Linked DNA regions of Homo sapiens. The protein of the gene in region 4 interacts with the protein of the main gene of each other region in a biochemical or structural test. Each region holds a gene or a part of one and is shown on either strand. Other genes may lie near its edges.

Region 1 (7,371 bases), on a different chromosome or scaffold from region 4:
CAATTCTTTTGCTATAGTGATATCTACATACAATGTCCAATAGTCTTAATAAAAACTCGATGTAATTCATAAATTCATGGTGTGTAAAGGGAAATTAAAATGAAATTCAAGACAACTATTTCAAGGGCTTAACTGTCCAATGGCTGAAGCAACAAATGGATGACTTACTACGAATTTTTAAAACTACCAAATCAATTTAAACTAGATGAGGAGTTAGAACAAGAGCAAGGAGGTAACAATATAATGATAATTCTAAAAATCTACTTCAAGTTTTTCTATTTTAAGATAACTAAACCACTAATATGTCACACACAAAAACAAAACTTAACATTTCCAGACCAATGTATTACATCACTCAACACATTATTAGCTGCAGCAAAAACAAGTAGAGCAAACACTTAGGAGGAGGTGAGGTACAGCTGCTTGGGCAAGCTTAAAAAGACGTTATCATTGGTGAACGAGGAGGAATAAATCTGTCAATGGTAGGCACAGGAACTCAAAACAACAAAGCAATGTGGGGCCGTTGAGTACAGGGGAAAACGATTTTACAATGGGTCAAAGCCCCTAAAGAAATTACCATGCCATAGACAGACGTACTAAAATACAATATAGGAAAAACCAAACTATAATAAGCAAACTACTCTAGGAAAATTAGGAAGTATTAAATACATTTTCAAAATATGTGCCTCAAAAGTAGTTGACGCTTTTAAACTGTGCTTAGAAGTTTCAATTACCAGGAAAATTTACTAAGAAACCACATTCCCTAGAAATGCCAGAGGAAAAAAGTATTTTTGTATATACCATACTTACATTTTCACTAAGAACATTTTACGTTTTACTTGTATTCAAATGCAGGTATTTTTAAAAAACAACTTACCCAGAGGGCAAAAAAATAAAATAAAATAAAATAAAATTACATTAAATCGACAAGCACTTACCTGAACATTTTTTTGGCCAATTTCTTATTTAACACAATTTATTCATCAATATCAGCAATGTTGCTCTGGGCTACCAGTTCATAATAATAGTTTTATTGTAAAACAACTGCTTAGTTAGCACTTACGGGGGAAAAAAAAAAAAATCACTGACCTGAATTCCATGTTAGTGGAAAATAGTAGTCCAAATGAAATACATGCAAAAGATTTCAGAGCAATCCTCAAGCAACAAAGTAAAAATAATAATACTGAGATCTAAAGATATTTGTCAAAGTAACTACAAGATTAAATGATAAATTCTAGTTGTAATAAATGATAGCACTCTCCAAGCTGCTTTAAAACATAATTCCACAACAAAGATAGAAAATGAAAACGTACAATAATTGCACTTACGATGTAGGAAGCAGTCATATTTAAAACATCGCCTACAGAAAAGCGTATGAAAGGAGTGTAAGCTTTGCTCTCTCTGAACAGATTTAGCATTTGGTCCATCTATGTTGGGGGTACATTCAGGAGGAAGTGCGCCTGGGAGCTGCTGTTCGGTGAGTTCTTTATATCTGACATTAACCAAGAAAAATTTAAGTAAACATGAAACAAAAATCACTTTTTTGAAAACAGTTTCTAAAAGGTTTCCATGTGTTACTTTTGATGTTTATCTTGCCTAAAACATAAAGGAATGGCTCTATTTAGATAAAGAGCCAACTAAATATTGTGCATGGTGTTATCAAGAATCAAATTCATCGATATGATTCAAATATATCATGGAAAAGGATATTATATTAGTTTTAACTAAACATCAAATTTCTACCAGTATCCAGATAATTTTCCTGTAAATGTACTACTGTAAATTTTATGTATATGTGTGTGTTTATGTGTATATATAAATTATACATATGTATTTATTCTATCTACAGGAAATATTTTGTAATGCAGAGTACCACAAGTACACATGTTGCTTCAAGTATCTTGCAAACACTGTAAACAAAGTGTAGTGGCTCATCCGCTACATTGATTCCATTTGTAATAAACCAAAATGGTGAGTTACATACCATACAGGGCAAGATTGCCTCAAAGGAACAAATTCTTACTTTTCCTTTAGTTCTTCTGCTGTGCCCTTATCTGGAAACATTGAGGAAATGGCTTCAAAAATTTTATCAGAAGGAAATTTCCGAGGTGGGCGGCTTTCTTTATCTAAACAGGAGAATATGAAAGGAAAAAAAGAATGGAAGTAAACAAGTTTTTGATCTTTCATTTTCTCTACCCAATTATGTCTCTATAACAAAGCTGATTTTCTAAGAAATCATCTCTATTTTGTGTTTTACTTACTTCTCACATACTTTACATGTCTGTGGAATGCCAGTCAGTCAAAAACAAAATTCAAATTCAAATATGAAAAGCTTTAAGAGCACTGGGAAGCAGAAAACCTAGGTTCTACTCCCAGCTCTGCTACTAACTGATTTTGTGACTTAGAGTGATCACTTTACCTCTTGGGTCTGTTTACTCATCTGTAAAATGAAGGAGCTGAACTAGATGATCAATAAGGTCAATAAGGTACCTTTTTGTTATTTTCTCTTTTTTGAAATACGCTTCTTAGAAATTGCTATTTCACCCGCCAAATTATTCTATTCTATGCTGCCTTAGCATGAGCTTTGCCAAGTAGAGAACACCAACTATTGACTCTGTTTCTTCCCAATAGTGTAATCTTATAAGTTACTTAACCTCTCTAAATCTATCCCCTCAAATAGAAAATGGATCTGACAGGTGGGGCGCAGTGGCTCACGCCTGTAATCCTAGCACTTTGGGAGGCCGAGGCAGGTGGATCACGAGGTCAGGAGATAGAGACCATCCTGGCTAACACGGTGAAACCCCGTCTCTACTAAAAAATACAAAAAATTAGCTGGGTGTGGTGGCAGGTGCCTATAGTCCCAGCTACTCGGGAGGCTGAGGCAGGAGAATGGCGTGAACCCAGGAGGCGAAGCTTGCAGTAAGCTGAGATGGGGCCACTGTACTCTAGCCTGGGCGACAGAGCGAGACTCCGTCTCGAAAAAGAAAATGGATCTGATAATAACATCCATCTCATGAAGCCATTATGAGGATTAAGTGAGCTGGTGCATAAGAAGTGATTAGTACACAACTTGTACACGGTGAATATCAATGTTATATATTATAATGATGCCCAGTGAAGCACACAAAAAATTACGTTCTTTGCTAGCCAAAGGAAACAAAGATACTCAAGTGAAGATAATGTTGCAAGTATTATGCTTTTTTTTTTCTTTTTTAAGGCAAGGTCTCACTCTGTCACCCAGCCAGACTGTGCAGTGGCACAATCACAGCTCAATGCAGCCTACACCTCCTGGGCTCAAGCAATCACCCTGTCTCATTTTTTTACTTTTTAGTAGAGATGGGGTCTCACTATGTTGCCCAGGTTGGTCTTGAACTCCTGGGCTCAAGCAATCTGCCCACCTTAGCCTCCCAAGTGCTAGGATTACAGAGTTAGCCACCCTACCTGGCCATAATATGTTAATTTTGATTATACTGCTATCAATGTGATATTTAACAAAGAAAGAAAAAGAGAAAGAAGAAACTAAGCCCTATTTCTACTCTTTCTACTGTTTTTGAAAGAAAGCTGTAATGGCTACACAGAATCCTAATAATCAGGCATACCATCTCGGTGATCCTCCAGATCTTTCTGCTTTTCTTCTCTTTCTTCAGGATCGTCTCCATCATCATCATCGTCATCATCATTATATTGACCAAGGGCATTCACCAACTCCACAAAAATTTCATCATTTATAAACCCACATTCTGAAACGCATCAAATGTCAGAAACACACAGGAGAAGCAATAATGTCAAAAGTTTATGTATCCTTTTTCTACTTGGACAAAACAGGCATAGCCTAGTAACTGGCACTAAAACATTATTATTGAAATGAGGGGAGGAAAAGATAAGATCATTTTCAGGACTGGTGTTAGGCAAAGGAAGCAAACTTATCTTTAATACCTGCTACTTTCTGTAGAATGGCCCCTCCCCAAAACTTTCTAGTAGAAAACTGAATCTTCTAGGAACTGATTGTGGCTTTGGCCTCCTCCCAAACAATGGATCTGTCCTTTAACTGATCATTTCAGACCCTGCTTTCTGCTGATAATGACAATGGATGATGATATTACAAATATTATCCTTTCAGACACTTTAACAGGGCCTCCTGGACACAAAAAACTGAAACCATGACTCTAAGGATTGAATTTCAGGTACTGTAGTCCCTAGAGGAGCGGTATTTTTTAGTAGTAGGGGCTGTTGGAGCCCCTATATGCCACAGAAGCAGAGCCCCAATCCTAATTAATTTTACTACTAAAGAATCTTAAAATCTACATACACTCAAGTTCTATTTAATTTACATGTTATTGCCATTATGTTATAACCAACTATGCATAATTATCAGGTGGCAAACATGATCCTCCTAACTAATTTTCCCAAAAATAGTTAGGGAAAATACTGAAAATCTTAGGCCTGGGCCCAGGTTCAGTCCCTTATAGTTCAGTGCAAAACTTAATTTTAATATTAAAATTTTTCTCATGCCCTATATGCTTCATAAACAAAAGTGTCTCTCAATTCTTTAGCCCCTTTTTCCAAGAGAAGAAGCATATGGCTCACCTCTATCCCCGTGTACTTTCCCATCATAATTTTTTATTAGTTCTTCAATGAAAGTACCATCCTGATCTAAAACTTCATCTCCCATATAAGGAATGTTATGTAAAACAGTTTCATCTTCCACCTAAAAGAAAAAAATATATTTAAAAAGCAGGTTTACTCTAAGTATCAAATGTGAAATAACTAAAATACAACCTTTTTTTCATGTGTACATGTCTTTACCCAGTTCTCCAGATTTAAAATACTAGTCAGAGAGCAAACTCTAAAATTTATCAAAAAATAAAAGACCCCTCTCACCAATAAGCATATCTGAGAAAACTGTTGACAGAAAAAAAATTTAATTCTAGAAAAAATAATGCACTTAGTCTGTCATCAATCATTAAAACTTACCACCATTATTGTACATACCTCTAAGAAAGAAAAAGATGCTCTAGATTATGAGAAGACATCGTCTGTTTTTCTGTTTTTGTTTTTTAATTGAGACGAGTGTCTCACTATGCTGCCCAGGCTGGTCTCGAACTCCTGAGCTCAAGTGATCCACCCGCCTTGGCTCCCAAAGTGCTGGGATAACAGGTGTCTGACACCATGAGCCACCATGCCCAGCCATCATCAGTTTTAACGCGCACTTTAGATGTTAATAGAGGATGATGAAATATGGTGTATCAAGATCAACTATAAAGACCCATACCAAAAAACTACCCTAAGACTCCCAAACTCCACTTGATGATCCAGTTATTAAAACAGCCATTAACTTGTAATAGTTTAAGGTAAAATGAAAAAAAAATGTAAGACATCCAATATAATAAAATTCTAGGGATACAGAGTATTGATAGTCCATTAAAGTTTATGCCAAAAGGATATGTACTTATATGTAAAATAAGAACATTCTACAAAAACATAAAATATTTCAATATTTAGATGAATGAGATGAATATCAAAGTTGACAGTGCTAGTAAAGATGATAGATGAGTTTTTATCAAGCTTTGGAAGACAACAGAGAAGAAAGAAGAATAGCCAATCAAACAAAAGTTAAGACAGAATAGAATAGTTAAGCATACAAGGTAAAGAAAGTTGACATTCATAGGAGGAAGAGCATTTTCAATGAAGAATAAAAATGACAGCAGTTATAGATAAAGACTGGACAGTTCTGAAGTACATGTTTAAAGAGACTAATTCCAAGTGAAGACAAGTCTAAGTCTTAAGAGGCCTTTGAAAAGAGTATTGGTTGAAAACAGAATTTTAGAAAGATAATTATAATAAGCAGAATGGACTGGCTATGCCTGACTGGGAGGACACAGAAGCTCTTTAAAGGGTGAGATGGCGTAGGCTCGGCCCAGCACTATGATCATGGCCCACAGGTAAGAACACGCTGGGAAAGGCCACACACAGGACTAGTAGCAGCCAGGGAATGTGGAAAAAATCTCAAATAATCCCTAGGTAACAAATTTAGGACAACTGGAGAGTTCATAAAGATAACAAGTACCGTAGACAGACAAGGAAAAGAAAAAGTGGGATAAAAGGAGCATATAATTAAAATGCAGGTTTTAATGTATTCATATATTCAAATTCAAGCTTATGTACACACTAGAGGCCTGTTTTCATCTCATTTCACTTGCACTAATCTCATTTAAACTAGGGGTTGATTTCTTTCTATCTAAGCCAAAATCAAGTGACACTTAGATATTTTGTCTTTTCAATCATATCCACATCATCCTGCTCTCCAAAACGTATCTTAGTTACAATAAAGATTGTGTGCCTAATCTGCTTTGGTCAGCAAAATCAGACAGGGTCTGGCTCTGTCACCCAGGCTAGACCAGCAAAATCCATGGGTGATTCATAAATTAATGACAAATTTAAATAATATATTCTTCCAGAATTTCAGTCTGTGAAAACATGAAACTTCCCTCAAGGTCATGCAATGTAATTCTCAAACTACACTCAAATTTATACAACTACAGAAGAGTAACTGAAGTTGAGACTCTACTGTACAAAGTATAAAAGTTACTAAAAACTTCCCCAAAGCAGGTTCACCAAGGACTTCTATCAACATTTTATTAGCCTTCCCACTTTATATATCAATTAAGTAATACAACTATATATTTTTTATTTAGCAATACAAGTCAAGAACACATGCTTCAGTTTCTCTTTAGCATTTTATTACAAAAGCTGCTGCGTCAGAGTTAGCAATGGAACTATGTTTCAGCTCATGTTTCACAAGCCCTATGAATTTTACACCATAATGTACATTATCACAATAAAATGCTACCTAAAGTTGTTTTAAATAATAAGTTCTCAATTAACAAAAACTCAAAGTCAGACTTAGATTACAGGACACTGACTTTTTTAAGGATAAGAACTATAAGCTTCATTCCTTTTGTTTTTTTCAGACAGGGTCTGGCTGTCACCCAAGCTAGAGTACAATGGCACAATCTCAGCTCACTACAACCTCCGCCTCCCTCAAGCCATCCTTCCACCTCAGCCTCCTGAGTAGCTTGGGACTACAGACATGCGCCACACCCAGCTAACTTTTGTTTTGAGGACACAGCGTTTTGCCATATTGCCCAGGTGGATCTCCAATTCCCAGACTCAAGTAATCCATCTGCCTCAGCCTCCCAAAGTGCTGGGATTACAGGCATGAGCCACAATGCCCAGCCCATCTTTTAAATATTTTTAATCCTAGGTATGGTTACTGCTTAACACTTTTCCTTTGGAGAGTATAGGAAAAGAGTAATACTGCACAGGCCTTAAAAAAACTACCTTAATCAATTTTTAAAAATTACTTCAAGT
Region 2 (7,975 bases), on a different chromosome or scaffold from region 4:
GTGAAGACACTTGGGGGTGGGGGGCAGGAATTCGGGGGGTGGGCAGGAATTTGTGGGGGTGGGTGACTGTTTAAGAAATAAATCCTGGGCCAGGCATGGTGACAGCACTTTGGGAAGCTGAGGCAGAAGGATCACTTGAGCCCAGGAGTTCGAGACCAGCCTGGGCAAGACAGGGAGACCCCATCTCTATGAAAAACTAAAAAGTTAGCCAGGCATGGTGGTGTGCACCTGTAGTCCCAGCTACTTGGAAGGCTGAGGCGAGAGGATCTCTTGAGCCCAGGAGACTGAGGCTGCAGTGAGCTGTGATCTCGCCACTGAACTCCAGCTTATGTGACAGAGCAAGACCCTGTCTCAAAAAGAGAAAGAGAGAAAAAAAGAAAAGAAGGAAAAGGAAGGAAGGAAAGAAAGAAAAAATAAATCCTGGGGCCAGGTGCAGTGGCTCACGCCTGTAATCCTAGCACTTTGGGAGGCCGAGGTGGGTGGATCACCTGAGGTCAGAAGTTCAAGACCAGCCTGGCCAAGATGGTGAAACCCCATCTCTACTAAAAATACAAAAATTAGCCGGGCATAGTGGCGGGCGCCTATAATCCCAGCTTCTCGGGACGCTGAGGCAGGAGAATTGCTTGAACCCAGGAGGCAGAGGTTGCAGTGAGCCAAGATCACCCCACTGCACTTCCAGCCTGGGCGACAGAGCAAGACTCCGTCTCAAAAAAAATAAAATAAGGAAAAAAGAGATCCTGGAAGATTTGTTCCCAGCACCCAGTATTGTGGCTGAGACATGCCCCAGACAAGAAGCCCAGAGAGCCGCTCCCCCTAGAGAGGCTAGAACAGGGGATTCCTTGCCAGGGCCCTGAGGATGCAGAGGGAGGTCAGTCCTGCTGCCCCTATCACGCCTTGTTATTCCACCCCCAACCGGCCCAGACCTCCTGGGAGTCAGAGGAAGTTGCTGACCTGTCCCCTGGGGGAATAATTGTATTAGTGATAAGGTGGCCTCTGGCAGCTTAGTCAGCAGATTCAGGGCTTTGGGCTGAGTAATCCTTTGGCGTCTGCCCCAGCAGCTGGTGATCACAGATCGGGGAGACCCCCCCAACCCCCAGGCCCTGCTGGGCTTTGGCTTCCATTCCCCCAGCACAGTGCATAGGGCACAGCTCTGGCTGGCCTGACCTGCCAAAGAACCCAGGGCCAGGCTCAGAGGGGATTTTGGCTGGCATCCACGTGATGGAGTGACAGAATACAGTCAAAATCAACAGCGTAAAAATGGGCCGGTCAAACACTGCAGGGGGCTTTCATTTAGATGGGACTGGGTTTCTTGTGTGGCCTGGCTTGTTTTGTTTTTGCCATTTTAGGTAATACATACCCACTACAGAATACAGGGAAATACAGACAAGGTTGAAAACAGATTCTCTGTCCATTAAGTGCCTTGGGATCCTCATCCCCAGCTAACCCGAAACTCTAAGCCTGTTCCCTGGAATCTTCCATCTGGATGGAGGAGAGAAAGTTGACCTGGAGTGAGGTTCAATGTAAGGACAAGATCTGCACCCGGAGAAGCTCTCTCTCGGAGAGCACAGGCGGCCTGAGGAGTCAAAACAGGTGGCCTGTGGAGTCAGCACAGGCAGCCTGGAGGAGGTGAGCCCTGGACAGGCCTTCAGGGATGGGAAGGGTCTGGGCAGAAGGAGCAGGAGGGCCAAAGCCAGCCCCGCTCAGCGGCCTCCCCTGCGTGTGCTGCCCCTGAGAGAAGGAAGCGCTCTCCTCCAGTAGCCCTGCCCCCGCTTCCTCCCTTCCATCTGCCCTTTCCGCTTCAGTTCACCTCCTTTAATCCCACCACAACCGCCCAATGGGACACCATCCTACTCATTCCAGAGAGCATGAAACTGAGAGGCAGAATAACTTCCCCAAGCCCACACAGCCAGGCTCTGAGAGGAGCGGTGCTGGCCCAAGCCTGCCCTTAAGCCCGGGCTGCAGGCCGGAGCAGCCCCTTCTCTCCTGCCGGCTGCCGCCCCCTCAAGCCTGCAGGTGTCTCTCCGGAGATGCTGGGCATGGGGCAGGGTTTGAGGTACACCCACCTCCACCTCTCTTCCTGGCTCTTTCTCCTCTGTAGCTCCCATTTTAAAAGGAACTGCATTCCTAACATATTTTTCTTTAAATATCTAAATTCGTTGGGGAAAAAAATCTTTCCTTAATGTTACCCTCCCTGCCACCCCTCAGCCCCGTCTCCTTCCCTCACAGCCACGCTCCCTCCCCACAACTAGGCCTCCTGAATCATGCTCCCTCCCAGGGCACCAGCTCCTCCGGCTGCTGCTGAAACCCAATGAGGCAGCTGCCCCTCCTGGGAGGGTGTCCTGGTGCAAAGCTGAGTGCAGTGCCAAGCACAGTTTGAAATCCTCATCTGCATCCCCAGCCTCCTCCACCACTCACTAGCTGTGTGGCCTGAAGCAAATTACTTAACTTCTCTGACTCTGTTTTTCCTCACCCATGAGTTGAGGCTAGTAAGGACAGCTCCTTTACAAGGCTGCTGTGAGGTTTGAAGGATCTGTGTAAGAACTTGGCATGCTTCCTTTCTGCATGACACGGAAGGAACACTTGCATGGTGACACCACCATTGCTGATTCCTCCCCGTCCCTGGCTCCCGCGACAGCGCAGCGCTGTCCTGAGTTTCCGTCTTGTCTCTGATGTGCCTTTGTCATCAGCTTGTCCTTGGCTCCAGCCACCAGAGTCTGAGACCCTTGAGCTCAGCCTTAGGCATTTTCAAACCTGCACGCATTTGCTCCAGGCGGCCCCCCAGTCCTGGGGTTACTACCTCTGTGCAGATAAATTGGGGGTGGTTTGGTCTGGGGCATGTGGAGCTGGACTCCACGGTGGAACTGATATGAAGTGGCCCTGGAAGCCGTGAGTGTGTGTGAAACTGCCCGAGGAGAGAGCGGGAAGGGCTGCTGGGACCAGTCTCTGGGTACATGGAGGTGATGACAAGTTCAAGGCAAAGACCCGTGTTCCAGAAGAGATGGGAAAGAGCGGCTTCGGGAAGGAGGGAGTGGCCAGTCAAATCCATGGAGGATGGCCTCAGCTTCAGTCTTAGGTGGAGCTGGAGACCTTGTCCTGAGGGGCTTTTTGGCAGAGGAGGCAGGGAGGGGTGAGGACGGAGGAGAGGAGAACAGGTGAGAGCACCCAGCCCGGTGGCCTCGATCTTCTGAGGCCCCAGAAAGCGGATTACCCTGCAAAGCCCCTCGAGCTGACTTCCCAAATCCCTAATTGTGCTTCTCTGTCACAGGGAGGGTTAACCCCACTTACATAAGGGCCAGGCCCCGCCCCCTGTCCCCTTAACTCCATGATCCTTCTGGAAGCTTCACGCTCCGCCCGCTTCCCCTTGGGGTCTAAGGCTGGACCAACCCCACCCCAGCTCATCCTGAGGTGAGCTCTGGTCTGCTGGGGACAAGTGGTCCCCTCCAGGACAACATGGGCTTTCAGCTCTGTCCCGGGCAGGGAGGGGGCTGGCAAGTGGGCCTGGGGGTGGAGGAGCAGGCAAGAAAAGGCTGCTGAGTGTGACCTTCTCAGTAACCCCAAGAATATAACAATATCAGCTGCACACACCATTTATTAGGTTCTTACTGAGTACCAGGCTCTGAAACACATTTCCTGAACCATTGTCTTTAGTTCCCCAACTACACCATAGGACAGGTGCTCTTCTCATCCTGTTTTACAGGTGAGGAACTGAAGTTTGGACAGATTGAGTCACTTTCTCAGGGACACATGGCTGGCCGGTGATGGAGAAGGTACTTGAACCTGGGTCTGCCTCTGCTCTCTCCACACTCCCTTGCGGGGGCCCGGGGCTTACTATAAGGCAAGGATGTAAGACAAGTTCCTCCTTCCCTCTCCTTCCCACAGGAGCAGAGGCATCGCTGGGCTGGAGGTGGGAAGGATGGACCTGGGAGCAGCGCAGGGGGCTGGTGTGGCAAGAGGCAGGCGGAGCTGTGAGGCCGAGTTCGGGGGGAAGGGGAGGACTCCTGAGAGCCCGTGGCCAGGCTCAAGGTGGCTGTGTCCTCACTGGCTCTAGTCCTGCAGGCCTGGCTCTCCAGAGGAGCCTGCCAGCTCCTCTTCTGCCCCCTCACAGGCCTGAAGGAGACCCTCCAGATGGGGATCCAGGCCTCTTTCCTCCAGGCCAGCCTCAGACCCTACGGGGGACGGTTCTGGGAACGTCCTCTGTGCCAGGTGTCTGGGGACTGCTAGCCTTCTGGGGGGGCTGGATCCTCAAATCGTGAGCCCCAAGCAGTCCCTTTCCAAGGGATTGGAGTGAGAACCTCGTGGGGCAGAGCCAGATCTACCTAGGACCCAAGGGGAGTGTCTCAGGCAGGACCCCCACAGGCAAAGACACACACACTGGCCACACACTTGCCTTCGGATGTGTGCCAAGCAGCTCAAAAGGATTTAAAGTCCAGCCAGGTGGGGTGGCTCACACCTGTAATCCCAGCACTTTGGGAGGCTGAGGTGGGCAGATCACTTGAGGTCATGAGTTCGAGACCAGCCTGGCCAACATGGCAAAACCCCATCTCTACTACAAATACAAAAAAAATTAGCCGAGCGTGGTGGCAGGTGCCTGTAATCCCACCTGATTGGGAGGCTGAGGCAGGATAATCGCTTGAACCCAGGAGGCAGAGGCTGCAGTGAGCCGAGACCATGCTACTGCACTCCAGCCTGGGTGGCACAGCGAGACTCCGTATCAAAACAAAGAAAAAGATTTAAAGTCCTTGGGAGAGGTGGAGTCCACACCTCTCTTCAAGATGTGGCATGAAATGGTGAACAGCTGAGCACACAGGGCAGGAGGGCCCCGGGGGACCTTGGGCAGCCCGGGAACCAGCATGGGGTAGCAGGACTGACCGGCTCCCGGGGCACCTTGGTAATGCTGCAGGTGTGGCCAGTTGATCCCCTGTGGAGACAGTAAAGATTAAGAGGATCATAAACTGCGTCCAGCGGCTGCCCCGGGAGAAATCTCCTCAAGCCAGAGCCTGTGCTGTGAGGGGCTTCGGGACCTTGGGGCAGCTCCTGAGTTCAGACAGAGTTCAGGAAGGGAGACAGGGGCACAGAGAGACAGAGGTTCATGGACTGAGGCAAAGGCTGGGCCAGGCTCAGCAACCCAGGCCTCCCGCAGGCAGGCAGAGGCTGCCCTGTAACCCATGGAGACCAGACCAACAGCTCTGATGAGCTCCACAGTGGCTGCAGCTGCGCCTGCAGCTGGGGCTGCCTCCAGGAAGGAGTCTCCAGGCAGATGGGGCCTGGGGGAGGATCCCACAGGTATGGCTTCTCCTGGAGGTAGGGTTGGGTCTGGGCCCTTGGGGAGCAGGGTAAGGGCCAGAGGTTCGCAGGGACCATGGAAGGAGCCAGAACAACTCAGACCCAGCCCCGCCGGCTGTGGGCAAGGGTGGGGTAGCCTGTGGGTAAACCCAGAATCCTAGAAACACGGTGGGGCGGGGATGGGGGTTGGGGGCGGGCAGGCTGCAGAGCCAGGACAGGACAGCCTAGCCGATGGGGAAGGAAAGAACAGAGAAGCGCCCTTAGGGCTTAACAGCACAGAGGTCCCTAGTGGCGTTGACAAGAATGTTTCTGTGGGATGATGGAGCCTGAAGCCACCCACAGAGAAGGGATGGGAGCTGGGAAAGTGGAGCTAGGGCTCGGACTCTTGCTGAAAATTGGCCATTGAGGGAGGAGAGAGGGCAAGGAATGGGGGTGGGGGCTGGGGTGTGGATGCACAGTGAGGGAGACACTTCTCCAGATGGAAGAGTCACGCGTGGGTTCGTTCAAATGCGGGTGAGCGGGGCCTGAGGACTGGGAAAGGGACCCGAGGGAAGGAGGGGAGCGTGCAGCCCTGCCCCGGCCCAGCCCTGCCCTGGCCCAGCCCTGCCCCCTGCCCCTCAGGCGTGAGCCCCTCGCTCCAGTGCCGCGTGTGCGGAGACAGCAGCAGCGGGAAGCACTATGGCATCTATGCCTGCAACGGCTGCAGCGGCTTCTTCAAGAGGAGCGTACGGCGGAGGCTCATCTACAGGTGAGTGCGGTGGGCCCTGCTGGGCGTCTGCCCCTGAGGGGTTCTGGAGGGGTGAGGGGGTGCTCAGGGGAAGAGGGGCTTGGGCAAAAATGTCCAAGCCCATGGCTCAGGGCATGGGAGGGACACTGACCCCTGGGGTCTCCTCTTCACCTGCAGGTGCCAGGTGGGGGCAGGGATGTGCCCCGTGGACAAGGCCCACCGCAACCAGTGCCAGGCCTGCCGGCTGAAGAAGTGCCTGCAGGCGGGGATGAACCAGGACGGTGAGGCGGGGGCTGGCCCGGGGGGAGGTGACAAGAAATGGGCAGCGGGACTGGCGTGTCGTCCTGACCCTTCCTGCCTCCCCAGCCGTGCAGAACGAGCGCCAGCCGCGAAGCACAGCCCAGGTCCACCTGGACAGCATGGAGTCCAACACTGAGTCCCGGCCGGAGTCCCTGGTGGCTCCCCCGGCCCCGGCAGGGCGCAGCCCACGGGGCCCCACACCCATGTCTGCAGCCAGAGCCCTGGGCCACCACTTCATGGCCAGCCTTATAACAGCTGAAACCTGTGCTAAGCTGGAGCCAGAGGATGGTGAGTGGGAGAGCAGCTGAGGGCACAGCAGGGCTTGGCTTCCCGGGTCACAGCAGGGCTGCAGCGCCTTGCCTTGATCCTCCCTCCCCCGGGGCTCCAAGTACTCCCTGCCACCTCCCGAGAAGCAGGCGCTAAGATCACAACCTCCTCCTCCAACAGCTGATGAGAATATTGATGTCACCAGCAATGACCCTGAGTTCCCCTCCTCTCCATACTCCTCTTCCTCCCCCTGCGGCCTGGACAGCATCCATGAGACCTCGGCTCGCCTACTCTTCATGGCCGTCAAGTGGGCCAAGAACCTGCCTGTGTTCTCCAGCCTGCCCTTCCGGGATCAGGTACCTACCGGCCTGCCTGCTGGGGAGCTAGGCTGGGCTGGGGTCAGGCGGCCCACTCGAGTCAACCAGACAGGGCACACACATCCCCACGCCAGTATGAATGCACACAGCTTGGATGGTGATGGCTGGGGACACACATACCTCTGATTCAGCGATGGCTGGGGTGCATCTCAGGGATGGTGACGGTGGGGGTGCATGCATCTCTGGCACAGGGATGATGGTCGGGGTGCACACCTAGGAGATGATGATGGCTAGGGACCTACAGGGCCCAGGGTCTTCTTAAGTTCTGGAAGACCCTCAGGCCCTGCAGACATTCTGTGGGTAACAAGTGACCTGCACACCCTGAACAGGCTGAGTGGCTGACTCTAGGCCCCCTTGGAGCACAAGTGCCTACGACTTCAGGGCTTGCATTTTAGTTCAATCTCTCCAGCTCTGGGCCATCCCTCTCGGCTTCTAATGGGCAAGCAGATCTTTCAGGAAAACCAGGAGGAGAGGCATGAGGAGGGTTTGAGGCCCTCAGCCAGTCTGTGTGCTGGGGTGGAGCAACTCAGAAGAGTCAGGCCACACCACTTGAATACACTCAACTTAGGACACTCATGAGGCATGTCTCTGAGGCTGCCCAACTTCCAATGGCTCTGGGCGTTCCTAAATGTCCCAGCTGCAGCTCTGGATGGAACCCAGTGTCTCAGATGATAGGCAGCTGAGCCGGATGGTGCCAAATCCCAGAGCTCTGAGCCTCTGGCTGATGTCAGGAGAGCATTCTCGGGTCCCAGGACAGCACTTCCATTCCTTGGGTGCCTGAGATGGTGGCAGAGGCTCCAGACTGAGCCAGAGAAGCTGTGTGTCTGCCATAACAGGCACCCCTGTCTGAGCACAGGTGATCCTGCTGGAAGAGGCGTGGAGTGAACTCTTTCTCCTCGGGGCCATCCAGTGGTCTCTGCCTCTGGACAGCTGTCCTCTGCTGGCACCGCCCGAGGCCTCTGCTGCCGGTGGTGCCCAGGGCCGGCTCACGCTGGCCAGCATGGAGACGCGTGTCCTGCAG
Region 3 (8,334 bases), on a different chromosome or scaffold from region 4:
AACATCAAAAGTTGTGTTTTTTTTTAAAAAAAACAAACCCATACAACACAGGGATTAAATGATGTGGAAGCTCATGCTAGCTGCAGTCTATGCATTACGGCCAAATCAGAAGGATCGGTAAATGCCGTTGTAAATTGTAATTTGTATGCAGTATTTAAGCAGAGGGTGGAGTTTGATGAAGAAATAAAACGAGTATCATGCTTTAAAAAAAATGACACAACTATGAAAGCACGGTTCAGTCACAAACTTTCCTTTCAAAGTAGAGGGGTGAAAACAAGGCCACAGCTCTGGAGGAGGCGGCCCCAGCTCCGTGAAGAAGAGAGGGAACCAGTGAACGGGCCAGAAGCCCCCCTTCCCCCCTAATTAGACCTACAAGTGCAATAAATCTCACTCCTCTTTTTCCGAGCTAAGCTTCCAAAAGGATGATGGCAGCAATGAATCTATGGTTCAGGGTACTCCAGCCCCCAGCCCTCCCCCATTTTAAATAAAGGGTATGAAGAGGTGGAGGGAAAAGTGGAATGAAAAAAAACCACAGAAACAGAGTTTTCTGGGGGAAATAAGCACCCCTCCCCAAGTTCATGCCAGCACAGCCCCAAGCAGCCTCACGCACACGCGGGAAAGAGACACACACCGAGCACATCCAAGACAGAGGGAAGAAGGGGATTTTAAGCCACAGCTCACGATCTCAGGGACACAATCCTGAGCAGGCAGCGGGCGGGGTGGGGGAGCCGGGGAGATGAGCGCAGGCCGGGAGGGGGAGGCAGCGGCAGCGAGCTGGGGAGGGCGGGGGGAGACGCCGGGGGAGGAAGGCAGCCGGGAGAAGGAAAGCTGGGACGGGCCGGGACCACAGGAGCCCCAGCCCCACACAGCAACCACCCGGGCGAGAAAGAAAGAAAGAGCCAGGGAGGCGGGCGAAGCGCGGGGAGAGAAGCAGAGAAGAAATATTCACCTTCCCGCCTCATGCCCACTTTGAGGCACTTCTTGAGGCGGCAGTATTGGCACTGGTTGCGGTGGTGCTGGTCGATGGGACAGTTCCTGTTGGCACGGCATGTGTAAGTTAAGTTCCTGCGGACGCTCCTCTTGAAGAAACTTTTGCAGCCCTCGCAGGTGAATTGGCCGTAGTGCTTGCCGCTCGACTTGTCCCCGCACACCACGCACTCGATGTGCTGCTGGCTCTGGCCCGAACCGGGCGGGCCCTGGCCCTTGTCCCCCGCCGTGCCGGGGGTGGCGGGCGCTCCGGGCTGGCCCGGGGTCTGCGGCGTGTGCGGCGCGCCCGAGCCCGCCTGCTGCTGCTGCTCGCCGGCGCCGCCGCCGCCGCCGCGGGCCGCCTGCGCTGCGGGGTTGGGGCCGCCGGGGTTGCCCCCGGCCACGTCGTCCTGCGGATCTCGCCAGCTGCTAACTACCATTGCCATATCTTTGGGCCCGGGGAGCGCTGGGGGGAGCCGAGCTGCTCGCCGAGGGCCGCGGGGCGCGCGGGCGCGCTGGGAGGGGAAGGGGAAGGGGAAGGGGGGAGGGGGAGGGGGCGGGGGGCCCGCCGGGCGCCCCGGGGTCGCAGGAGCCGAGCCCGAGCCGGACACCGGCCGCTGCCTCCGCCGCCGCCGCCGCTGCCGCCGCTACTGCCTCGGCCGCCCCGCTGCTGCTGCGCGCCCGCCCGCCCTGCTGGCGTTTTGTTGTGGTTCCTGCTGTTTTCTTTCTCTCTTTTTGCAGCCCCCCCAGGCTCTCAGGCTCCCCCCCCAACACCCCTGCTCCCCTCGCCCGCTCCCCCCGCGCTCCGTTCCTGGGGGGGCCGCGCTCTCCTTCCCCCCTCCCCACCCCCCGGCGAGCAAGCTCCCTTCTCTCGCTTTTTTCTTCTTCCCCAAGTTGCAAAATCAGAAATGGCACAGGCGGCAGCCGGGAGCGGCGCGGGGCGCAGCGCCGGGGGCGGCGGGCATGGGCCACGGCGCGCGCACACACTCGCCCTCCGCCTCGCCCGCACCCCCGCGCACACACACACTCGCACACACAGTCGCTCACCCGCGCCGGGCGCCCGCCCGCCGGCCGCTCGGGCTACGCGCAGCGCGCGGGCTGAGCCGACATAGAGGAAGCCGGCGAGGGCGGAGGCGGCGGCGGCGGCGGAGGAGGAGGAGGTCGCGGCTGCAGGCGCCGCTGGAGCTGCCGCCGGAGCTGCTGCGGCGAGCGCCGCTGGAGGAGCCGGGACCCGGGCCGGAGTCCGAGCAGGAGTCGGGGCCGCAGCCGGAGCGCGAGCGGAGGCCGGGGCCGCCCGCGGCGCCGCCGCTGTCCCGGCGGGAGCCCTCGCCGGGCTCGGGAGTGCGGGGAGCGCGGTGAGCCGAGCAGGGCGCTGGGCGAGGCTGCCGCCGGCGATCAGGGCGCGCGGGTGTCGGGGGGCCAGGTCCAGGGCCGGACGCAGCCAGCCATTCAGGAAGGCAGCGCTGGAGAGCGGGAGGCAGCCGGCGAGGAAGATCACACACTTTGCTCTTTTTGTTGTGCCGGTGGCGCCGGGCTCTCGCTGCCTTCTTCTTTCGGGAGGTGACGGAAGGGGGAGAAAAATACGGGATAATTCACGCCGGCGACGAAATCACAGCGAAATAGAAAAAATAAAAATCAGAAGAAAATAATTGCCAAAAAAAGGAAAAAGGAAAAGCGAGAGAGACATCCAAAGTAGGTCGAATAAATAATCCTCTTCTTTTCCTCTTTCTTGCTCCTTCTTCTGCTTCTTCTGCTATAACACACAGAGCTAGTTAAAAAAACCCTGGAGATCGCCCAAAAATGTTCTTTTTTTAGTATTTTAAATAAGTGCTCTTCAGCCGGCAACCAACACCCTCCCTCCAAAAAAAATCATATATGTATAAAATAACGATAAGAAGAATACGAAGGGGGTGCCTCCTCCTCCTCCTCCTCCTTTTTTTTTTCTTTAAGTTTAGCCCTCTCTCTTCTGCAGGAATGGAGTAAAAGAGACAAGGAGGAGGGAGAAAAAGGAGAGAAAGGAGAAGAAGAAGGGGAAAACAACTAGTAGAATATGTAAGAAAAGAGAAAGAGAAGAGAGGTTCAGAGAAGAGAGGAGAGAGAGAGGAGAGGAGGGAGAGAGGGGGGAGAAAGAGGAGAGAGAGAGAGGAGAGAGAGAGAGAGAGAGAAGAGAAGAAGAGAGAGAGAGAGAGAGAGAGAGACCCAAAAATTGAATGCGTTTAAACGGGAGGACTCGCAGAGCAATGTTTCCGAAAGGGGGATCTGCGCGAATGTCTGTATATAGTGAACTTTGACACTACTATTGAAACTGACACGTTTCTATGGAGATCGCTGCCTTATATGGAGCTCGTGTCAAGGAGCCAAGAGAAGGGCTGCTGGCAACTGATAATCAAAGGCGACTGACTGGTCAGAGCCCTGAATCGGGGGGAGAGAAAATGGGAGGCTAAGGTTAGCCAAGCCTCCTGCACGCCATTGGTTGGAGAGCCCCTCCCCCCTCCTCTTTTGCTTTCTTTCTCCCCCCCCCGCTTAGCTACCTACAGACTGGGATGGTGTGGGGAGGAGGAGAGAAAGTGAGGGAGGGGGGTGTGTTTCTGACAAGCGCAATTTACATTGAGATCGCCCTGCGCTGCTATTTACTCTGAGACCTGATTAGTATGGGTCGTCTATGGTCACACACACACACACATACACACACACACACTTACGCTCACACCCCAGAGGGGGAAGGGATGACGAGGGGGAGAACGCCTAGCGATGGGCAAAAGGAGAATTAGAGGGAAATTATTTTGATTTCTTCTGAAAAGTTTTTAAAATTAGATTTTATGAGCGTGAAGAGAGTGTCATTGAAAATGTTTGGAAAAATTTTTAATGGGAATGAAACCCCCACCATTTTAATGATTTGTGAAATATACTGGATTTGGATTGTTTTCTTCTCTCACATATAAGCACAATCCAAGTCTGGATTCTGCTCATTTTATATCCTTTTTAGAAACAAGTAGAAACAGGGTAGGATCTCCCTATTTTTTAATCCAAAGTATACCTTGGTTTAAAAGGTTTAATGATGACAAAGCACACTCCTGGAATTTGCAGCTATTGCCACAAATTCGATCGGAATCAAGGGTTCCTATTTATCCCAAAGATGATTTTAAAAATAAACTTTCCAATCAATCCAATTTTTCCTTCTTCTTTTTTTTTTTTTTTATCACCTGGCTGTTCCAAACTCCAACAATGCTTCAATCATTATTAATAAAACAGTAGTAAGTCCCCATATTGTTGCAGGGTGGGGGGAGATTAGTGTGGCCAAGTCAGTCCCGGGAAAAGAGCAAACAAACGAGAAGATGGAGAGGGGGGGAGGCGGAGAGGGAGAGAGAAAAGGGGGAGGAGGAGAGAGAGAGACAGAGAGAGAGGAGAGGAAAGGAAAGAGAGGAGAGAGGAGAGCGCGCGAGATATTGAGAGAGAGAGAGAGAGAAGAGAGGAGAGGGGAGAGAGAGAGAGAGGAGAGAGAGAGAGACCCAGAGAGAGAGGAGAGAGAGAGAGACCCAGAGAGAGAGAGAGAGAGAGAGACCCAGAGAGAGAGAGAGAGACCGAGAGAGAGAGGAGAGAGGAGAGAGAGAGAGAGGAGAGAGAGAGAGAGAGGAGAGAGAGAGAGAGAGAGACGAGAGGGAGAGGGAGAGGGAGAGGGAGAGGGAGAGGGAGAGGGAGAGGGAGAGAGGAGAGGGAGAGGGAGAGGGAGAGGGGGAGAGAGAGAGAGAGAGAGAGAGAGAGAGAGAGAGAGAGAGAGAGAGAGAGAGAGAGAGAGAGAGACCGAGACCCCGATTCCTGAATCCTGAAGGTGATTGGTCGCGGGAGGAGGGGCAGGCGGGAGGAGCGGGTCCCGCGGCGGGGCTTGCAGGAATCGCTGGCTCCGGCTGCCACCTAGCGGACGGGAGCCGCTCCCGGGCGGCACACAGCCGAGTCCCTCCTCCCCTCCCCGCAGGCAGCCTGTGCCTTTTCTCCAAACGAAGACAGCACTTTGAAAATTCTTTCAATGGATTTTTTTTTCCTTGAAAGATCGTACTGGGGGAAAATGATACTTCTATTAGTTACATATTCTCCAATCGCATACTCGCACCCCCCTCGTTTTGAGATCGCTCCCCTAGGCAGGCTCAGGCGGGCGCGGAGCCGCGCGGAGTGACAAAGCCGCCGCTGCCGCCGCCGGGGGTGGGAGCCGCGCTCGCCCGCCCGCCCCTCGACTCGCGAGGGCGTAAAAGTTTGTCTCAGCTCGAGCATTCCTAGCGCCAACACGCCCTCAGGTAAAGGTGGAAGTAAATGGCCACGCTGTATTGACAGAGGTAGGGTTTGTTTTTTAATACTCGTTCTCACTTTAAGTCTCACCAGGGAGGGGTTTGGGAAGCACTGCGTGTTTGGGGGACGTTTTGCGCTTCCTGGTCTCTCCAGCCTACAAGTCGGGAGTCGGCGACCGCTTAGTGACGAGCGATGATTTTAAAGAGCAGAATAAAAGGTTTTCCCGTGCCTGCCCCACAGCCCCTCCAGCTCGAATAATGGAGAACTGTCAATGCACTCCGCGAGCGGTGGCCCATTGTACGCAGCTGATGGCGAGGAGGCGACTGGGGGTAGCAGGGGCTCCTTGCCCTCGTCCCTATGCCCAAATAAACGCGCAAACGCGCTCCCGTCTTCTGGTCAGTTAAAAGGTGAAACGAACACGATTAAAATAGACCAAAAGAAAAGAAAGAAAAGAAAACCTTTCTATGTACAGATTCTAAATCGTACTCCCCATACAGTCAGAGGCAGGGAGTCGAGGGCAGAGGCAGCAGGCGGAGAGAGGGAGATAGGGCGAGGGAAGGAGAACGCGGAGAGAGACGAAGGGAGTGGGAGACCAGCGACAGCGAGCGCCAGGGCACCGCAGGCACACTGGATGCCCAGTCCGCCGGCCCAGCCGCCCTCGGACCCTGGACCGTGCGTCGTGGGCACCAGAAACGAGACTCGGCCAAATCCTGCCTCACCAGGCAAGTAACATAATGGTTGTCGTTTCTCTTGAACTTGGGGTTGGTAACGGGCAGGGCCGGGAGGCAGTCTTGGCTCGCACGGCCTCCGCAGGCCGAGAGCAGAGTCTAGGCAGCCAGGGCGGGACGAGGAGAACTTTCTTCGGGGCCTGCTCGGGAGTTGCCCTCGCTCGGCCTCTGTCTCGCCGTAGCGCTAAGGCGAGGATCGCGGCCGCCGCGCCTCCTTGGAGGGGAGGATCGTGCCAGGCGAGCAGCAATCCACATTCAAAACAGGCTGCTCCCACCCCCACCCGCTATTCCCTCTCTCTCCTAGGCGGGAAACGGATGCCCGGGCGGAGGACGGGGACCCGCACGTTTAACACCGGCCCGGCTGTTCCTGCTGGTGCCGAGCGCGACCCGCGGTGGAGCCGGCTGCAGAGTCCGGCCCGGCTGGCCCTTGTGCCCGCGCCTTGCCTGGTTACGGCCTGAACCTGGCGAGCTTGGCTGCAGCCGCCCACCTGCGGACGCCGTTTGTAACGCCATCCCCTAATGTAACGCGATCGATGGCTGCCTGTCTGATGTGGGCGATAGTGTCAGCGGATTAAAAGGGACATCGAGCCGCTCTCCCGAGCAGACAACCTGCGGCGGCGGCGAGAGAGCACCGGGATTCGCAGCCTAGCAGCCGAGCCAGACTCCCTGCGCCGCTGCCAGCCGGCTGGGGGCGGGGAGGGGGTCGCCTCCCAGGGGTGGGGACAGAGGGGGTGTGTTGAAAGGAAGAGGCTCAATTAAAACCAACAAGAGCGCTTTCCTCCGTGCGGGGCAGGGGCGTGCGTTTGCGTCAGAGGGCGCGCGGGGGGCGGGGGCAGCCGATGCTGGGGACTGCACCCGGGGGCTGGGGGGTCTCGGAAGCGAGGAGGCCTTGCCTAGCTGGGCTGGCCCGGGGTCAGGCCCTGTAGGTGAGGGCCAAGGCGAGACGGGATGACAGCTGAGCCTGCCCGGGAGCAGAGGCGCCCACCCATCCTTACTGTGGGCTCTCCGTGCCCCCACAGAGCTTTCAAACTTGAAAGAGGCCCCTGGGACCCGGCGTGACCCTAGCGGTGGGGAGAAGTTGGGCCCGCGAGGCCTCAGGCGAAGCCGCGGGCTCCTCCGGAAGGAAGGAGGAGGGTGAAGTCCCCTGTCCTAGTCCCAGGGGTGGGAGTGGGAAGCTGTTGGTGGTGATGCCCGGAGCAGCGGAAGCCCGCGGCTTTTCGGAGGAGGGGAGCGGCTCGCACTCCTACGGGGCATCCTTGCCAACTTTCTGTCACAAGAGGGGGCGGGGAGAAACCAAGGCTTTTCGAGGAGGGCGCTGTCCCCCTCTGGAACTCGTCCGGCCTGAGTGGCACTTAGAGCTCAGTTTCTCTTCGGAAGCCTGTGCTCCCCGACCGCGGTTGCACACCCACAGGGCGCCCCACTTGTGCTCATAGCCCTGCCTCCAGCAAAAATGTCTTCCCTAGAGGCACTGAGAGGTCAGCTTAGTTCCTGGGAAGCCCTTTCTTTCTTTCTTCAAGGCTCTCTTTTGATACTGGTCCCAATTGGCACACTTGTCCTGGGCCTAATGCGACCCACACTCAACCAGGAAATAATGATATCTGTTGTTGTGGGGTAGGGTACCTAATAGAAAACTGATCATAGTTTTCGAGAGTACTTAGATCCCCCAATTGGGAAATCCTACATACTTGTCCAGGCACGCTCAGCTGCAGGAGCAGAAAACGCAGTTGTAGTGTCCACGTTTCTTTCACCCACCCCCTCTTCTTCAGATCTCTCTCCCTCCCTTCTAGGCCAGGCCTTTCACCTCGGAACCTTAAGCTGAGTCTGGACGTGGTTCTTGGACTCGGACCGCTGTGGCTCTTGCCTCAGCATCCTACCCGAGGCCTCCAGCCAGGCCCACAGGGGCTCAGCCCTCTCCAGGGTCTCTCTTTCGGTTTGGCGGGTCTGGGAACTGTAAGGGCCTTGCCGGGGCCTGGGCTCCCGGGAGCCTCCCTTCCTTCCTCTGCCTTCCTGGTTCCCACAGACCTGTTCAGTGCACACTAGATCTTTAGTGTAGTTCCCCAAAAAGGCGATGAGAAGGTACCGCTCCGCTTGGGGAAAGGAATTAGGCTGTAAGCCTATAGTACCCCTTGCGGGCTGCTAGCATCAAGCTCAGCGTTAATCACGTTTTAAAAGACATACCAGACAAAGCTTGATCTCTCCCAGCTTGCCACCCAGTAAATTGTGATCTGGTGAGAGAGGAAGAGAAGCACAGATCGGTTTGGCTGCACATTCAGGGTTGACTTGCGTTCCAGGCCCCAGAATCCGGATCTAAGCGGACTGTCTGTCTGTTAACATATCCTCTCCCTCCATATCTTTCTTA
Region 4 (7,371 bases):
GCTTTTAACCCCTGAACCACCCAGCCCTCAGGACCTGAGGGCTTATGAAATTCACACAATAACTCTTTGTTACCTAGGATTACCTAGGAGTTAACAAAAATAAACAACTGGCTTTGAATCTGGTCTCAGGGTGCATGCCCTGCTCTTCAGATACCATTTACAAGATGGGTAAGTGTCATCTCCCTCCCATCTAAAAACAGTCCCCCTTAGAGCCTTAACTCTGGCATCTTGCTCTTTGTTATTCTCTCTCCATGACCTTTTTCCTTTTCTTTTTTTTTCTTTCCACAGCAGGTTATTTTTCATTTACTTTCAAATAAAAATTAGATGTCACACTTCTTTTCTTCTTGAACCTGCTTTTTTGTGTTTAGGGTGGAATCACTGCCCACCCCCTAACCTTTTAGCCATGCATGATTCATACCATGTGTTCCTACACAGAGAAGCAAACTGTATTATTTTCTAAAACAGTATCTTTCAGAAAACATTTGTATAAATGGACAAATTTAAGTTTCATAAAATGGTCCCTACTATAAAAGCTCACTTGAACAAGTAAATGGTGGTGGCAGTGGTGGTGGTGGTGGTGGTGGTGATGATGGTGGTGGTAGTGGTGGTGGTGGTGGTGATGGTGGTGTTGGTGGTGATGGTGGTGGTGGTGGTGGTGATGGTGGTGGTGGTGGTGGTGATGGTGGTGGTGATGGCGGTGATGGTACTGGTGATGGTGGTGGTGGTAGTGATGGTGGTGGTAATGGTGGTGGTGGTGATGGTGGTGGTGGTGGTAGTGATGGTGGTGGTAATGGTGGTGGTGGTGATGGTGGTGGTGGTGGTAGTGATGGTGGTGGTAATGGTGGTGGTGGTGATGGTGGTGATGATGGTGATGGTACTGGTGGTGATGGTGATGGTGATGGTACTGGTGATGGTGGTGGTGGTAGTGATGGTGGTGGTAATGGTGGTGGTGGTGATGGTGGTGGTAATGGTGGTGGTGGTGATGGTGGTGATGATGGTGATGGTACTGGTGGTGATGGTGATGGTGATGGTACTGGTGATGGTGGTGGTGGTAGTGATGGTGGTGGTAATGGTGGTGGTGGTGATGGTGGTGGTGGTGGTAGTGATGGTGGTGGTAATGGTGGTGGTGGTGATGGTGGTGATGATGGTGATGGTACTGGTGGTGATGGTGATGGTGGTGGTGGTGGTGATGGTACTGGTGGTGATGGTACTGGTGGTGATGGTGGTGGTGGTAGTGATGGTGGTGGTAATGGTGGTGGTGGAGATGGTGGTGTTGATGGTGATGGTACTGGTGGTGATGGTACTGGTGGTGATGGTGATGGTGGTGGTGGTGGTGATGCTACTGGTGGTGATGGTACTGGTGGTGATGGTGGTGGTGGTAGTGATGGTGGTGGTAATGGTGGTGGTGGTGGTGGTGGTAGTGATGGTGGTGGTGGTGATGGTACTGGTGGTGATGGTGGTGGTGGTAGTGATGGTGGTGGTAATGGTGGTGGTGGTGATGGTGGTGGTGGTGGTAGTGGTGGTGATGGTGGTGATGGTACTGGTGGTGATGGTGGTGGTGGTAGTGATGGTGGTGGTTGTGGTGGTGGTGGTGATGGTGGCAGTGGTGGTTGTGGTGGTGGTGGTGATGGTGGTGGTGGTGGTGGTGATAGTAGAGCCTTCACATTTTAACTACAATGATGTGCATTTTTCTCTAAAACCAGGAGAAAAATTAGTCAAAATTATGTGTGGGCATGAATATACAACATATACTATGTTCAAATACACATGTAAATACATAAGGAATATGCATTGGAATAACTCTGGAATAACCCTAAACTGACTCCTTTTGATTCTGGCCTTGGCTAAAGATGTGTGCCATGGACTATACCCAAAGTCCTAAATGAGGCCACAGGAGTGAATGTCCAGTAATAAAATGGGCTCCAGAGGCACAGGCATCTTCAATCACTAGCCACGGAGCAAGACAAGACCCTGGGGAGAAGACCCACAGGGATGAGCTACTATCAGCTCCCAGCCTCCAGTGAGGAAAGAAAAAGGGGAGGGAAGAAGTCCCTCTGGGGCTGAGTGGAGTGGGGAGCGGCTGCCAAGTGAGTAATGGAATAATACATATGACAATCTATTTTGGAAGTAACTCCTTCAGTACTTAAAAAGTAAGGGCAATTTCCAGAAATTCTCATCTCTATACACATGGACATTTGTAGAAGAAATAAGGCTCAACTTACAAATACCCTGCGGGGCATATTCTGCACTCATCCCAGGCGTGGGGATTAGAGCTCCATGTGCAGAACGAGGGGAGGAGAGGCCCCTCCAGTGCAGAAGTTTATCTGTGAAAGAAACCCAAAATCAAGCACTACAGCTACAAACAACGTGCATCATAAACCACAGGATATCACATTTCAATTCCATTAAAATAGATTACAACATCATTACAACAGCCTTGCAGATAGTTAACAGGCCCAAGGCCTGAAACAAAAGAAGAGTGGTGAGTTATTTCCCAGAGTTTCTGTTTTGTTTTCAATTTCGGTCTTTTTGACAAAAGTGAAAGGGTTTGTTTTAGGAAAGGGGAGAGGTGGTCTTTGGTTCATTTGCTTATTTATTTGTTGTTGTTTGATTATTGTCTTGTGGAAAGAAGATGTGTAAGCAGCAAGGGGAAAACTGGTAATATTGTGGGTAGCCTGGAAACATGGGGGGATTTTATCTGCAAGGCTGGTTTACATGCATACATTAACTTTACTTTATAGACAAACCCAAGCAAAAAGCAAAATGCTGATAGGAAATGAGTAGATTTGTGAATCGTTTTTTATGGGACAGAGTCCCACTTTGCTTTCTCTGTCCCTCTGCCCCCCTCTTCCCATGCTATATTTATGATAGCGCCTTCAGTGATAGGGGAAACCTGGGCATTTCTGGACTGAGCTGGGCCATACTCTAGAATCCTGTCAACTGGAAACCTTACACAGATGTGGCTTCTCACAATACAAAGCAATGGAAGATAAAGATTAGACTTCTGGGGTCCAAATAACTTTGACCATTAAATGACAAGGAAAGAACCAGCATTCCAATAATGCCAGCACCCAGAAACCCTGACCCATCTTCACCATTTTACTGCACTTTGTTGTACTCTGGTGAAGACAAGTGACTTCTCACACTAATAAAATGAATCTAATAGTCAATGAAACATTTGTAGCACTGAGATTTTTTTGAGAAGAGGAAAATTTGGTTTGTGCAATCTGGGGATTTTACGGTTTATGTGGTAAGTGCCTAGCTTTTCCAAGTCCTCCTCTAGCTAACTAACCATGTAGCTGTCCATCTTGAGACAGACTGGAGGATAGATGGTGCAGGAGACGCTCTGTGTGTTCTAGAGGTTTGGAGTTCATGATGATTGGGGAGGGCGGGAGACAAGAAAAACAGACTTTGATGGTGAACAAACAGTATGTTTTCCATTAGCTTAATATTAAGAGCACTTAGAAGTGTTGTTGTTGTACTCTAGGATAGCAGGTCTCAAGTGTAAAATACATCCTGTTCTCCTTATATAGAGCACACTGCCAAGCACAGCCAAGGCAGTTGGGACAAGATTTCCTTTCGCAAGGAGCCTGGTGGGTAACGATGGTGTGCTGCTGAGAAGGCTCTTACACAGACAGCATAGGTCTGCTGTTACCAGGCCTGCAGAGGGAAGCCCTGGTGGAAGCACCACCTAGCCTGAGAACATCTACAGAGACATTTCATCCTCTCTGACCCAAAACAAAATAAACACCACAAAGTGAACCAACACAAGCAGGAAGACCGGACTTAACAAACAAGTATGTCTACATTTGACTGTTTACGTCAAGTGAATTGAGAGTGTGGCGTAAAATTACTACAGATTTTGTCATGGTATTTTTCAATGAGAAATCTGAGAATCCATCTTTGCACTTGTTTTTGCCTCAGCCGTTCACTAAGTTTGCTGCCAAAACAGACATCCTTTTCTTAGGAAACACAGGCAACCCAGGTATCTCTGTGATCCCAGCATAAACGCAACAGGTACTTGGATCCTTGTATGGGGAGTATCAAATTTCAAATTCTCTGCCACTTACTCTGGGAAGAGACCCTGAAGTGCTTCAGCAGGCCTCCAGCAAGAAATGGGAGAACTGCTAACCTAATCCATGCCTAGCCCCTCGCATGAATCTCTTGTTGGCAAACTTGTCTACAAACCCATTAGCCCTAAACAAGCTGACGGCAGGACCAGATCTCTACAGTGTCTGGCCGTGTGGCAAAGTGAGGTCTCATCTGACTATCTGGCAGCATAGTTTGTTTTTGTTTTTGTTTTTGTTTTTGTTTTCTAAGTTGTAAAAAACCCTAGCTATCATCAAGTCTGTCCCTTCATTTTACAGATGGGGAAACTGAGGCCATGAGAAATTAAGTGACTTGCCCATGGCTACACTGATGATTAACCACAATGTGAAGATTAGAATTAATCTCCTGACTCCTGATCCAGTGGTCTTTCCTGGGAATTTGTCTCTTCCCCCCTGCTGCTCCTGCCGTGGTCTTCACTGCCCAACAAGAAGGTCCTGTTTCTACTGATCCATTAAGCAGTACTTAACCGTCTTGGGGGAGGGTCCAGCCCAGCAGCGCTACATGGGGCTTTCGAAAGGTGCCAATGAACTGACTTGGTCTCACAATTGGAAAACAAGGCCTGCTCTGCTGCCTGGGCCTCCTGGCCTCACCTTTGCTGTGTTCACCCTCTACCTCTGCTTCCCCTGCAGAATTAGACAGCTAAAAACATTTCTATCAGCCTAAGAAGCTATTTACTTTAGAAAAAAAGCACACTGTCTTTGTGAGACTCACCCTTGCATTTATCTTCCTTCAGGAAGAGGGTCAAAGCAAAGCCAACTGGGGACCCCAGCTGATTCTGCTGCTTCTTCCACTAAACACATCCATAATATTCTCTTTGGTAAGTAAAATCGACATTCCCACATGAACTGGAAATGCTAAATTGTTAATAGCCTCCCTAGGGCTTAACTTCTTGCTATGATGCCTTCAATTATTTCATCACGGCTTAGGCAAAGTAAAGTATCACAATTAATGCTTCTGAGCGTCAAACTCGAGGAGCAGCTCTGCCTTCCCAGGCCAAGGTGGGGAAAAGGAGCTGCCCCTGGTTGAGGGCCTCTTCTTTTCCCACCTTCGCTTTCATTCTCCCCAGCCAGAGATGGGCTCTGGTTGCTGGCTAGGAAGTGGGTGATCTAGTTATGTCCTCTTTTTTTCTTTGTTAGTGCTCTTAGGCAAGTGATTCTCACAGCGCAGACCCAGGCCCACCCCCGATCAGCATCACCTGGGAGTTTGTTCAAAATGCAAATTCTTGGGCACCACCTCAGACTTACTGAATCAGAAATTGAGGGTGGGGAAGCAGCCTTCTATGTTGAATAAATTCTCCAGGTGATTCTCATGCACACTCAAGCTGAATCAGCACTGCTGTCTTAGGGTAAGGGAAGTATGAACGCTGGAAGCTTTGAAATTCCCTGGGCAGAGACCCATGGGCCATGAGGCTGTTTTCCCTCCTGTCCAGGACCCACCTCCTTTAGGACTGGAACAGTCAAAAACAAATTAAGCTTAGGGAATCCCTAAGGATCCCTCCATTAGGAAATTCAGGTTCCACCCTCCGTCTGTCATTGATAAGGACAGGGAACAGGTCCAGGCTCTCCATCAGGTCCAGGGCCTTCTTAGCATGAGACAACACCCAAACCAGCTTGTGCCAGACAGATTGTGTCCTCACTGCTTCCATTAAAGCCGACATGTCAGCGAACGCAGCTGTGGCAACTGCACGGACACAGCAGGAACTGGACTCTTGTTTCCCTTTCTGGTCTCTCAAATGGGACACATTTCCCTTTTCTGACTCAATCTTTTTTCAAATGTCTTACACTTTTCTGGTGGAAGGTGTTTCAACCTGTTCTATTTCATAAAGGTCTCTCTAGACCCAGTATTTCCACTTGGGGCCTCAGAAATGCCTTACACATTATTAGGTTGCAAAGTTTCCTTATGGCTGAATTTAAAAATAGTGACTCTTATTTTTCAGGTTTCATTAAAAAATATGCAGCAAACTGGGAATGGCTTTGATTTAATGTTATACATTTGGTCACTTTACATTTCTACATATATTGGGTACCAACTTTTGACAAAGAGCTCTAAGCCCAGTGGGATGTTCCTGGAATTTAAGTCATTAAATCAAGTTTTTTGGTTTCCTCAAGAACATCTCAAAGATTCCTTGACTATTAACATGCTATTTGTTTCTGAAACTAATCACTGGGTGTGTAATACAGCCACATTACTGTCTACTAATCAACAGGTAATACTGCAGATTTCCAAATGTGCCAAAACAGCTAAGCAAAAAGCATCATTCCAACACGTTTAATGACTGCTTTGGGAGCCCAACTTTAACAGGTATTAAAACCACAGGACTCTCCACAGGAGTACATAGATGTGTGCTATTCACTAAAATGTACGTGTGTGTGTGTTTGCAAGCATTTATGTGTACATATGTGTGTTAGCGTGTGCATGCATATGTGTTTGTGAGCATGTGCATGTGTGTATATTGTGACTGTGTGCATGTGTGTGTATGCTTGTGCATGTGTTAGCATGTGCATGCACATGTGTGTTAGCGTGTTCATGTGTGTGTATATGTGAGTGTGTGCATATGTGTCTGTGTACGTGTGTGAATGTGTGTATATTTCCTAAACATATGTTTTTAGATAATTTCCCTGTTTTTTTTTTTTTTTCAGTGAGACAGGCACAAAAGCAGTAGAGCTGTCCCACGTGGAATGGGCTATCTCGTGACACTGTGACCCCCTTTCTTTCACCCTGGGTCTTCAAAAAGAGAATGGATGACACTATGATGAGGAGGGGTCTCTATATTGGTGACAGGCCAAAATACAGGACTACCTACAGTCCTTTCGCAGTCCATAATCCTCAAGTCCCTCAGCTCTTCCATGTACCACCTTCTAGACTACACTTAAAATGCATCCTGAACGTTTGTAAAGTACCCTGAAGGAACCCATTCCAGTTCTGAATCCGATTACTAGGTTCAAGCCACACAAATAACAACAGTGCAGCTAGTCTGAGCTAGAGGCTTCTTTACCTAACTGCAAAGTAAATGTCCTTTCTATTCAGCCGCATCTAGCTCTTGACCCTATGTTTACCATAGATACCAGTTCTTCTCACTTAGATTCTCTGACTTATCAGAGTATTATAGAGCAAACATTAGCTATGCCTGTGACTTGAGTTGTGTCAATCTGTAATGAAAATGTGCCAGCTTTATCATCACTCACAGACTTCTTAATTAACCTTCTGATATTGTCAAAATCGCACTCTCTTTTGTTCTAGAAATGAGCATTTACATGTGCA

Evidence for each region.
Region 1: the proteins of BCL11A (region 4) and EZH2 form a complex in vitro, tested with the Homo sapiens proteins (one study listed by BioGRID).
Region 2: the proteins of BCL11A (region 4) and NR2E3 form a complex in vitro, tested with the Homo sapiens proteins (one study listed by BioGRID).
Region 3: the proteins of BCL11A (region 4) and NR2F1 form a complex in vitro, tested with the Homo sapiens proteins (2 studies listed by BioGRID).

Annotation. Positions count from the first base shown.
Region 1 is NC_000007.14:148,825,141-148,832,511, forward strand, and holds part of EZH2 (histone-lysine N-methyltransferase EZH2), read right to left. Parts: intron 4,709-7,371; coding exon 4,588-4,708; intron 3,741-4,587; coding exon 3,600-3,740; intron 2,127-3,599; coding exon 2,024-2,126; intron 1,493-2,023; coding exon 1,314-1,492; intron 1-1,313. UniProt on the Homo sapiens protein: Polycomb group (PcG) protein. Catalytic subunit of the PRC2/EED-EZH2 complex, which methylates 'Lys-9' (H3K9me) and 'Lys-27' (H3K27me) of histone H3, leading to transcriptional repression of the affected target gene.
Region 2 is NC_000015.10:71,805,579-71,813,553, forward strand, and holds the start of NR2E3 (photoreceptor-specific nuclear receptor), read left to right. Parts: upstream 1-4,975; 5' UTR 4,976-5,165; coding exon 5,166-5,283; intron 5,284-5,904; coding exon 5,905-6,031; intron 6,032-6,187; coding exon 6,188-6,291; intron 6,292-6,376; coding exon 6,377-6,598; intron 6,599-6,757; coding exon 6,758-6,933; intron 6,934-7,810; coding exon 7,811-7,975. UniProt on the Homo sapiens protein: Orphan nuclear receptor of retinal photoreceptor cells. Transcriptional factor that is an activator of rod development and repressor of cone development.
Region 3 is NC_000005.10:93,578,102-93,586,435, reverse strand, and holds the start of NR2F1 (COUP transcription factor 1), read right to left. Parts: upstream 3,215-8,334; 5' UTR 1,413-3,214; coding exon 950-1,412; exon of another isoform or gene 847-949; intron 1-846. UniProt on the Homo sapiens protein: Coup (chicken ovalbumin upstream promoter) transcription factor binds to the ovalbumin promoter and, in conjunction with another protein (S300-II) stimulates initiation of transcription. Binds to both direct repeats and palindromes of the 5'-AGGTCA-3' motif.
Region 4 is NC_000002.12:60,466,510-60,473,880, forward strand, and holds part of BCL11A (BCL11 transcription factor A), read right to left. Parts: intron 2,325-7,371; coding exon 2,223-2,324; intron 1-2,222. UniProt on the Homo sapiens protein: Transcription factor. Associated with the BAF SWI/SNF chromatin remodeling complex. Binds to the 5'-TGACCA-3' sequence motif in regulatory regions of target genes, including a distal promoter of the HBG1 hemoglobin subunit gamma-1 gene.